2 linked regions of the Homo sapiens genome follow. The protein of the gene in region 1 interacts with the protein of each later gene in a biochemical or structural test. Each region holds a gene or a part of one and is shown in the gene's direction. Other genes may lie near its edges.

Region 1 (5,504 bases):
TATTTATGCCCAGCCTCCTGTGGGGGCTTTACATGCCCTGTTTTTCTCAAATAGTCCTTACAACAGCCTTTAGAAGTAAGGACTCCCTCTGGCCTTACATAGATGGAGACCCAGGCACAGAGAGGCTAATGTAATCAACCTAGAGAAGCAGAGTGGAGACAGGAGGAATCCAGGCAGTCTGCAGTTTGCTGTGACTGTGTAGGACAATGTGGCACCTGGTTCTGACTTGGACTCCCAGCCCACCACATCTAGGCTGGGTGGAGCAGGGGCTGGGAATGCAGCCACTACCGGTAAGGGGCTGATTCATGCCCTCACCGCCCACCTGACTTCACTGTTCCTGTCTCTGTTCCTTCTTTCTGTTTATCCTGTGCTTAGGAGCTAGACGGATCGGCCTGAATTCCACTCTGTCCTGTGACTTCCCGCTTAGAGCCCTCCATGGTTCCCAGCCACCCAGGAGAAATGCCAGCTTCCCACCCGGGTGTACAAGACTCTGCAATATCTGATCCCTGCCTCTTCTCTGACTTCATCTCTCCCACTCTCCCCTCACTCATGATGCTCCGGCCATACAACCTTCCTTCTTCTTTCTCTCCAGATATGCCATTATACATGCTGGTCCTTCTGCCTGGAACACTATCTCTCCCTCAGATACTCTCTTTTCCCTTACCCCCTTTGGAAGAAAAATGCAGGTGTTAAGAGCATAGTTTTAAATTTGGAATCAGGTGGCCTGGATTGAAATCTTGATTCAGTCTTTTATCAATTAACTATCCTTCTGTACTTCTCTGGACCTCCGTTTCCTGATCTAGGAAATGGGCTTGCCTTCAGGATTAATGAGATAATGCATGTAAAGGTGACTGGGAGAGTCACAATTTCTTGGCCTCACGCCCTCTCTGACCAGAACTCCCCTAGCTCAATAGAGCTGGCAGCATCCCAGCCACCACTGCTTTCAAGAAACTTCCTCCGCCCACAGAAGCCTGAATGTACCCCTTGTGCTGGCTGAGTCATCCTGCCGCAGTTAGCCGCCCCCTGAAGAAAGACTCCTCTCCAGTGTGGGGACTGGGGCATGGCATCCCTCCCCCAAGCTTCTTTCTCTTCATCTGTAAAATAGGGATGAGAACAGCCTCTGCCTCACCAGGTGGTTGAGGGGTTGCTGTGAGCTAGTTATGGGTAAAGCATAGAGCCCAGGCCCTGGCACAAGGCAGGTATCCATGAAGGGGAGGAGGCAGAGGATGGCCTTGAGGGGAGGGTGGGATGGTGCCAAGTGGGTGTCTCCCCCAGGATGACAGGCTTGCACAGGTGCCCAGGCCCTACAAGTGAACATTAATGATGGGCTAGTTGGCTGAGGGTGTCATGCTTCAGAAGAACGTTTCCTTGAGGCAGCCTACTTCAGGGCAGGTCAGCTTGGGCAGTGCCAACACCAGGCCTCCAGCCAAGGAGCTGCCAGCACCTCAGCTTTGTCCACTCACTACTGAGACCTGGCTGAACTGAGCCTAGCTGGGCTTCCAGGAGTTCCCACCAGTAGGAGCTCCCACCCAAAAGAATGGGGTCACTGGCAGCTTTTGAACCAGCTGGGCACTGGCTGGAGAGGCTGGGTAAGAAATATATTTCTAAAGGCTATGTTGGGGTCAAGGCAGGGTGAGGGGTGCTCCATGGCCTGGATTCCCCTGAGTTGCTTACTTAGATATCTCTGTGAGTCTAACTCCACCCCCCATTCTAGCCTTCTTCAGTTGACCAGCATTGTAAGAGCTTCCAGGTGTGAACACTGCTTGACCCCGAGGGGTCAATAGTGGCACTGAGGTAGCCTGAGTTCCTGTCCTGCAGGGGAAGTAGAGGTAGAATTCTGACCCCCAAACGCAGGCTGTCAGCTGGAACTGGATGGCCCTGGACTTGCTCAGGGAGGTGATGTTCAGACCTTCCCATTTTAATTATAATGAAGTATTAACATGAACAGTGTAGGGGGAAAAGGTGGTCATGGGAGCACACTGGGTAGTGAGATCCCAGAGAGGCTCCCAGAGGAAGTGGCCTCTATGCTGAGATCTGAAGGATGAGGATGTGGGAGTCAAAGGAATGTTCCAGGTGGAGGGAGCAGCTTTTGCAGAAGTGTAGAGGTGAGTGATATATGGTGCCTGTGAGCACCCCATAGACATTCACATGGTCTGGACAGAGTGTGGGTGTGGAGGTGGGGATGAGAGTTGAAATCAAGCAAGTAGGAAGGCAAGGTCACTAAGGGTTTGAATATTAGGTCAAGGTGTGTAGTCTGTCTGGTTGGGGCCTTGTCTGTGTAGGGTATCTGTGATATGTCCATGCTGTGTATGTATCTGTGAGCACCTATGTCTCCATGTGTCTCTGTGTCCCCTGCATGTCCTTGGGCACATACGCAGGCTGCAAGAACAACATCCATTTGTCCCAGCCCTGAGGAAGCCCTTCTCGTATATCCTCATGCCCTGCCAGGCCTCCAGGTGCTGGAGTTGGAGGTGTTTCCAGCAAGGCTGCAGCCAGGCTACATGGGGACCTCAACCAGCCACTCGGCTTGCCCATCCACAGGCCATGCTGGTAGCAGGCCACACTGGCTAGGTTCTGAGGTTGGAGGAGGCCTAGGGCACAGCTTGCAGCAAGACCATATCATGACTGTGCCCAGCCATCTGGCTTGTCTGCTCGCAGGTCCATGCTGGCAGCAAGGCTGCATTGGCTGCCCTGTGCCCAGGAGACCTGATCCAGGCCATCAATGGTGAGAGCACAGAGCTCATGACACACCTGGAGGCACAGAACCGCATCAAGGGCTGCCACGATCACCTCACACTGTCTGTGAGCAGGTATGCACAGGTGGGCTGGGCTGGGAGGATGGAAGGACGAGGTGGGCAGTTATGGGCAGCTGGCATTTTGGGTGAGCCCAGCTTCACACAGCCTCTCTGCCTCAGCTCCTGGGTGCCCCATCCAGGAACAGTCCCAAGGAGTAGCACTTTCATGGGGGCCTGGCAGATACTGTTTAGAGTTATAGCTTAAGAAGGGAAGAAATCCCCTTTTAACTTAGACTAGAAGTGTGTTGGGGCACTTATGGCAAGTGTTGCAGGCAACTGAAATAAGACCTTGAATAGCCTCTGGGGCATTTGTTTCATTCCTTTCCCCTCCCCTGAGTGACCAGCTTGATGACCATTTCAAAGTAGTTTCTTGTGCAACACCTCATTTAACCCTCATTTACCAACTTAAAAAAGGGCTACTATAGTCCCCACTTCACAGATGAGACAAGTGAGGCTCAGAAAGGTTAGATGGTGCTTAAAGTCACACAGAGAGGGAGTGGGGTAGCAAAATTTGATTTTGGGGCTCTCTCCTAAGACTACAGACCCTTAACTTGGCTGCTGACTACTCCTACCAGCCCCTCAGCTGCCCTGCCACAGCTGTCGCCACCGTGGCCCACACCTCTGCCCTGGTTAAATCTGGATTTGGGAAAAGTTCCCACTAAGGACTGTGTAATGCTTTGCAGCCAATCAAGAAGGGGAGGACAGGGGGTTACCAAGCCCATCTGTGCTCCATAAATGATCCTGGGATAGAAGGTCCACTGGGGGTGGGGGTGGGGGGACCCAGCCTTGCTCAGGTCCTGGGTCTTTACTCAGCTCTGAGAAGCAGTTGGCCTAAGCCTGGCTGAGTGGGATCTCCCCACTCCCCTGCCCACCTTGATCCACAGAAGTCGGGCATAACTTATCAGCTCTGCCGTGTTCACTGCTGAGGGGATTTCCATGACCCCCTGTGGAAGTACGTGGGCAAAGCCTCCCCAAACCACAACACAGCTAACCATGCCTCTGAGCTGGCAGGGTGGGAGGTAAGCCACTGGCTTGGAGCCTTTAAACATGGTGGAGAGGCCTGTGAGGTCAGCCCTGTTTGTGCTTGGCCCTGGCACACGGTGAGGATGCTCCATCTTTGGAGTTCAGCAAAGCTGGTCCTCATCCAGCCTCTGGAGCCTTAGGTGCCCAGATGACCTCTATGAGCCCGGGGTTTCCTTTCCCATTAACGGATCACATTCATCACCCTCCTCCAGACTGAGATACAGGCTGGATGGGGGAAATGTCAGCATTGCTCTGCCCATGAGTGACCTCTGAAGCTTCCCCACTTGGCTGGGATCCTGGCCCCTGACTCACCTCCAGCCTTGACTCTGTGTGGCTGAACAAGGGCAGCCCTAGTGGTAGTGGAGTAGTGGGGAGGAGTGCCTCAGAGGGGGCCTGAGTCAGGAGCTTCTCAGAGTGTATGATGTCAGCGGAGGGTGGTGGGGTGGAGGTCCCCCTCCTTCTTTCCTTCCTTCCTTCCTTCCTTCCCCAGTCCTTTGTTCCAAACCAGGCATGGATGGAGCCAGAGGTCCACTGACCTGTTCCACTCTGAGCATTTCAGCCCCAAAATGTCACTGGCCATGGAGCAGATGAGAGCACATTCTCTACTATTACAGAGCTGGGTTGAGAATTATGCTCATAATTTTACCCATAAAAGAGAGAGAGGGAGAGATAACTATGCTGTGCTCCAGAAAGTGATTTAATCTCTTGAGCCCATAACTTCCTCAACCAAAAATATGGACCATCTTGCGCTCTGGACATTGAGTGATGATGTACCAGGCCTGCTCAGTCAGAGTGAAAACCTGAGTCCTGCCCTGCAGCCCCCTCACACATGCAGACTCTGGGGGATCAAGACATGAGGGCCACCTTGACTTTCTGAGCCAACATTTCTTCTCCTGGACACTTGCCCACCTGCAAGCTTTCTGACTCTGCTCCCTATCTTGCCTGCTATGCCAGGACCTATGCCTGGCCCCCAACGACACTCCTCCCCGCCCCCACCACACACACCCACACAGCAAGGGCTCTGCAGTAAATCAGCCTGTTGAGCTGGCTGGAGTGAGCTACCCTGTGCTCTCACTCCCAGGGTTCTACCCCAGACCAGCTTCCCTATCTGCCCTCTTGTGTACAGAGAGCTCTAATCCCCCCACCAACTCCCCCACAGAATGAAAAGTGTATCAAAGGCCCAGCTTCCCCACTGGGCTTCTTTTGCTTTGAGCCCAAAGCCAGGCATCCAACAATCCAAGCAAAATCACACTTCCTGGGCATGTTCTATAGGTCCAGGACCTTTCTGACATCAACTCCAACACTGAGGCCACTGATAGAGTCCCTGTTGTCCATCACATGTGGCCCAAGGTACCTTTGCACAGCCTACCCTTTGCCTGTCATTTTGTTTAAAGAGCCCAGCCTGGGATGGGGGTTGACACATGATTAAGCCCTTCATTCTGATCTGATGCATTGGGCCACATTAATGGCTCTGGGTACTTTGTGCCCTTCGACCTTAGACGTCAGGCTTGTACTGCTCTTCTGGGCAGAACTTCAGGGAAGTTGAAGGCCAAATAGCCACACAAGATGTCCCAGCTTTATCCCAGAGGAGTTCTGAGTAGATAGAGGCCACAGTTAGAGCTGTGAGTTAGGGTACCCACTTGGGAGCCTGGTTGAGGGGGCTAGAGACAGGGACTATGGGGCTGG
Region 2 (4,617 bases), on another chromosome or scaffold:
TGGTTATTGTCTTTGATAGTCAGATATGTGGGTTTATTTTAACAAAGAATTTAATTATCCTTTTTTCCTTCAGTCTAAGTCAAAGTCTGTCTTCTGTAGTATTTCTTATTAAAGATGGAACAAATATTTAAAGCCATCACATGCATTGCGTAAGTTTTCTCTTTTAGTACTTGTATGTCTTCCTACCAGGACCTTTTTGACAAGGATTACATAATGACCAATATTAGACTCTTCTGTATCATGTCCTTTGACAACACTCTCTGGTCACTATAACAGAAGAGTAAAGATAATGGTTTACTGAGGTACTTTGCCAGTTGTAGGTTTACCACTCACTATTCTTTTGTACCTTTTTTTATGTTGCTGATCATTATTAGAAAGACAAGGCAACTTGTATAACTTGTTTTATTAAAAAAGTGAACTATATGCTTATTTGGCTAGAGTATATAAGACAAAAAAATAAGGAATTAAAGTTCCCCAAGCCTAGCTTCATTTAAGCAACTTAAACTTACTTCAGGAACAACTCTTGGACTCTCTGGCATTTAAAAAAAATTGTGCCAAGATGACATTGGGTAACTACTAAGTAAATAAAAATCATCAAAAAAGTGGAATGCCTTTGGTAACGTAACTGCAGTAAAACTGATATGCAGTACCCTGAGGAATGTATGGTAATCATGATCCTTTTGGAAACTTTTATATAACTTTTATTGGAAACTGCAATATAAAATAGCATTTGTGGAGCACTTGCTACATGTCAAGCACAGTTCTAAGAGCTTGTCTTATATTGTCATTTAATCTTCATGATACCTCATGAAGGAGGATTCAGTTATCACTCATATTTCACAGGAAATTGAGTCATACAGGGATTAAGTAACTTATTTAAGGTCATACTGTAAATGGTGGAGCTAGGATTGGAACCTAAATTGTCTTGCATAGAAACTGTTCTCTTAGCCATTACGCCATGTTACCTAGTATGACAGTGGTTAGCAGAAGTTTGAATCAGTAATCCCACCCCTTAAAGTTTATGTGACAAAATAAATCAATAGCAACAAAACACTTTATGCACAGAGTTGTCCCTTGCCGTGTTGTCTGTGAAACAACTTACATGACCATGTAGTCGTTAAATCAGTTTTGGTTATGAGCACGTTGGAGCATCAGACAATCATGAAATGAAATATTTTCATAAACAACACTATTTCAAAAATATATTCCAGGTATCTAGTGTTAAATGACAAAAGAAGAGTAAATATAGACTATGATTAGAGCTACATAAAATGTGTAGCCTATAGAGAAGAGGCAGTCGATGCACAGATGAGAACAATTTTTTTGTTAGAATATATAGATTATCAGTAAGTTCTTTTTTAAAAAATCTGTTTGGAAATATGAGCAGTATTGAATTTTAAATTACACATTGTTATTTATGAAGGAAGAGGTGGCATAAAAATGAGTAAAGAGAGGCACTGCAGTAACTGAGGTGAGAGATAAGTCCATGAATCAGGTTAGCAGTCATTGTCATGGTGAAGTGTGGATAGATCTGAGAGATATTTAGGAAATGAAAGCAACAGGTTTGGTCATCAGATATGAGGAGTTAAAGTAAGGAAGGAGTTTAGGATGTTGTCTTAGCTCAGGATACTATAACAAATATAGACTGGATAGTTTAAACAAAAGAAATTTGTTTCTCACAGTTCCGCAGGCTAGGAAGTCCAAGATCAAGGTGTTGGCTGAGTCAGTTCCTGGTGAGGGCCTTCTTCCTGGTTTGCAGGTGGACATCTTCTTGCTGTATCTTCACGTGGGTAGGGGGAAGGGGTCATGGGGAGGAAAGGAAGCAAGCTTTCTCTCATCTCTTCTTATAAGGTCACGAATCCCATCATGAAGGCTCCCCCTCATGGCCTAATTACCTCCCCAAGTCCCCCATCTCCAAATACCATCACATTGAGGATTACAGTTTCAATATGTGAATTTTGGGGGCATATAAACGTGATTTATAGCAGATGTCTTCCTGTTTTTGGCTTGGGTGCCTGGATGAATACAGGTGCCATTCAACAAAAGAACCAACTTTTTTTTTTTTTTTTTTTTTCTAGGCAGGTCAGGCTTATGTAAGATGAAGATTTTTGTTTGGCCACCTTGAGTTTGAGATACCTGCAATTTTTGAGATACCTGCAAAACATTCAGGTGATGAGGTCTAGTAGAAAGTGAGTCTGCACCAAAAAAGAGAAGTTCTGTGCTGAAGAGTGTGATTAAAGATTATTTGGCTTAGGAGTGAAGGCTGAAGTAATGAGTCTAAATGAGACTTCGCTAATTGCTTTGACTTTGATTATGTATAGTCTGCCTGTTCATTCTAAGTTTTAACATGACAGACCCCAAATTTCAAACAGCAGTCATCTCGAGGCATTTTATTAATATGGGTACAAAGGATTCTCAAGTAAGAAATATTAGCTGTCCATTTAGAGTTGGTCGTAAACTACATTTTACAGTCTTTTCTTGCTTCCCTCTAGGGCGTTGCCTAGCTAAGGCATTAGTTATTTCTATGTCTGTGACAGTCTTCTCCCAAACAAATATTTCATGCCAGATTGTGCACGTTTGTGAGATTTCCCAGTAAGGATGTTGAAAAACAGAGTGCACGAATAATATTTCAATGAACAAGATTTATACATCCCTGAAACAGCATTTAAGAACACGCACCCATCTAAAAATGGAAAAATGCTTCAATATATAAAGCAATAGATTTGTACATACAGTTTTTTTTTTTTTTGGTAAATATATAATACCTCTTAGGAACCACAAGAATTCTTAAAGTTATACTATGGCACTCCTGAAAAATAAGTGACTTAAAGGAAGGAATTCTAGCTTATGATGGCACTAGGTTCCCTTCCCCTCATGTAGGCTCTCCTAACTAATCAGTGAAATAACAATAAATTCACAGAAAGAGGCAAACATTAATAATACTGAAAACTAAGTCTGACAGAACGTCTGTTGGCAAAATTCACGTGAAATTTCCCTAAGGCAGGTGGAACTGGTTGAAGAAAACCAATGTTTTCTTGGTTTTCAGTGGTACGGCGTGGTGATTATAGTTAACAATAATGTATACTTGAAATTTGCTAAGAGAATAGATTTAAGTATTCTCACTACAGGAAAAAAAGGGAACTGTGTGAGGTGCTAGATAGTTAATTAGTTTGATTGTGGTAATCATTTCACAATGTATGTGTGTATATTTAAGGTGATATCAACATCAGTTTGTACAACTTAAATATATACAATTTGTATTAGTTAACAATACCTCAATAAAGCTGGATTAAAAAGAGAAAAAAACCTATTGGTGGCTTCTTTTGGCTTTCCCTTATTAAACAGAGAGGCCTCAATGACTGGAAAGATGACAGGAAGACCCATTGCCCCTTCCCCACTCTCTGTCACCAGCTTAGAGACCAGGTCAATACATCCAACTTGGAGCACGCCATTTACTGCCGGAAGCATCTGTAATCCTTCTCTTTTCACCCCATCTTTTTAATTCTGTTGAGAGATGACCACTCTCAGAAACGAGCAGGACAGGAAGGTGGGTAGGTGGGTGGAAAGGGGTCTATAGAAGATGCCACTTCACCATTGAGAAGTGTACTGTGGTCTTCATAAGGACAGTGATTTTGTAGTTGCTTTGAAAGTATTGCAATAACAAAGCTTACTGGATAGTGTAGTTTTTCTGGCAGGGTATTGGTGACAGAGAAGGAGGTAGGGGGATAAGAGATGATTTCATCTGAATTGCCCTAAAACCGTGGTACATGGTATATAATAACTTACAACTGGGAACCTGGCTTGGAGCTGTACACATCAACTAGCCTTGAACGCAGATCTGAAAGTGGAATTGAACCCATACCTTTATTTTTAGCTCAGTCCTTCGCGTTGTAGAGAGGTTCGAGATCCAGGTTGCCTTAATCAGTGATCACATTTGCATCTCTATGGAAGCGGGAAGGCAACTAAATCTGGACAGGCATCTGTCACTTAGCAATGAACGAAAACATGGCTGTTTCTCAAGAAAACGGGAGAGTGAGGAAGAGGGGAGAGCATGACATTTACATGGGAGGCTTTTGGAAACTACTAACACATGTGTATTTGTTCTCCTCCCCCATTTGTGCCCCCTCGTGGGAGGGTGGTTGGTGAGAACCCTTCTGGATATGAAATTTGTAAGTTTTCCTGGTTGAATTTGCTAACAACTTATCTCCCAAGTTGTGAAACATTTTCCTAAACCAAGAAATTTGCTGTTTATTAGACTATCAATTGGACATTAACCAAAAATTTCTCCCTGAAGTCTTTAAGCAGAAACGTGGAGATTTGGTTCTATGTCTTATTTTTTTTTTTCTCCAAAATGGAATAATCTCATCCGTTGTTGGCAACCAGAAGTAGGCAGGTTTGGGAACGTGGGGATGCATGTACATAAGGCAACCGAAAATAGCCCCAACCGAGATCCTGGATGAAACATTATTCACTTTGTGGGGAGAGGAGAGAACCTGTTCTCCATTCTCCTCTGGTAGCCAAAGTTGGTTGAGGAGCTTGTAAAGCTGCCTTGATAACAGGCTCAGGGGTTAGCCAGGGTCTCAAAGAAATACGAAAACCCAAAACATCAACAGGCAG

The links. Proteins that work in one complex are often made in the same cells at the same time.
Region 2: the proteins of PDLIM4 (region 1) and DOCK4 interact in a test that uses a peptide from one of them, tested with the Homo sapiens proteins (one large-scale study listed by IntAct).

Annotation. Positions count from the first base shown.
Region 1 is NC_000005.10:132,259,951-132,265,454, forward strand, and holds part of PDLIM4 (PDZ and LIM domain protein 4), read left to right. Parts: intron 1-2,658; coding exon 2,659-2,810; intron 2,811-5,504.
Region 2 is NC_000007.14:112,195,428-112,200,044, reverse strand, and holds part of DOCK4 (dedicator of cytokinesis protein 4), read left to right. Parts: intron 1-4,617. UniProt on the Homo sapiens protein: Functions as a guanine nucleotide exchange factor (GEF) that promotes the exchange of GDP to GTP, converting inactive GDP-bound small GTPases into their active GTP-bound form. Involved in regulation of adherens junction between cells.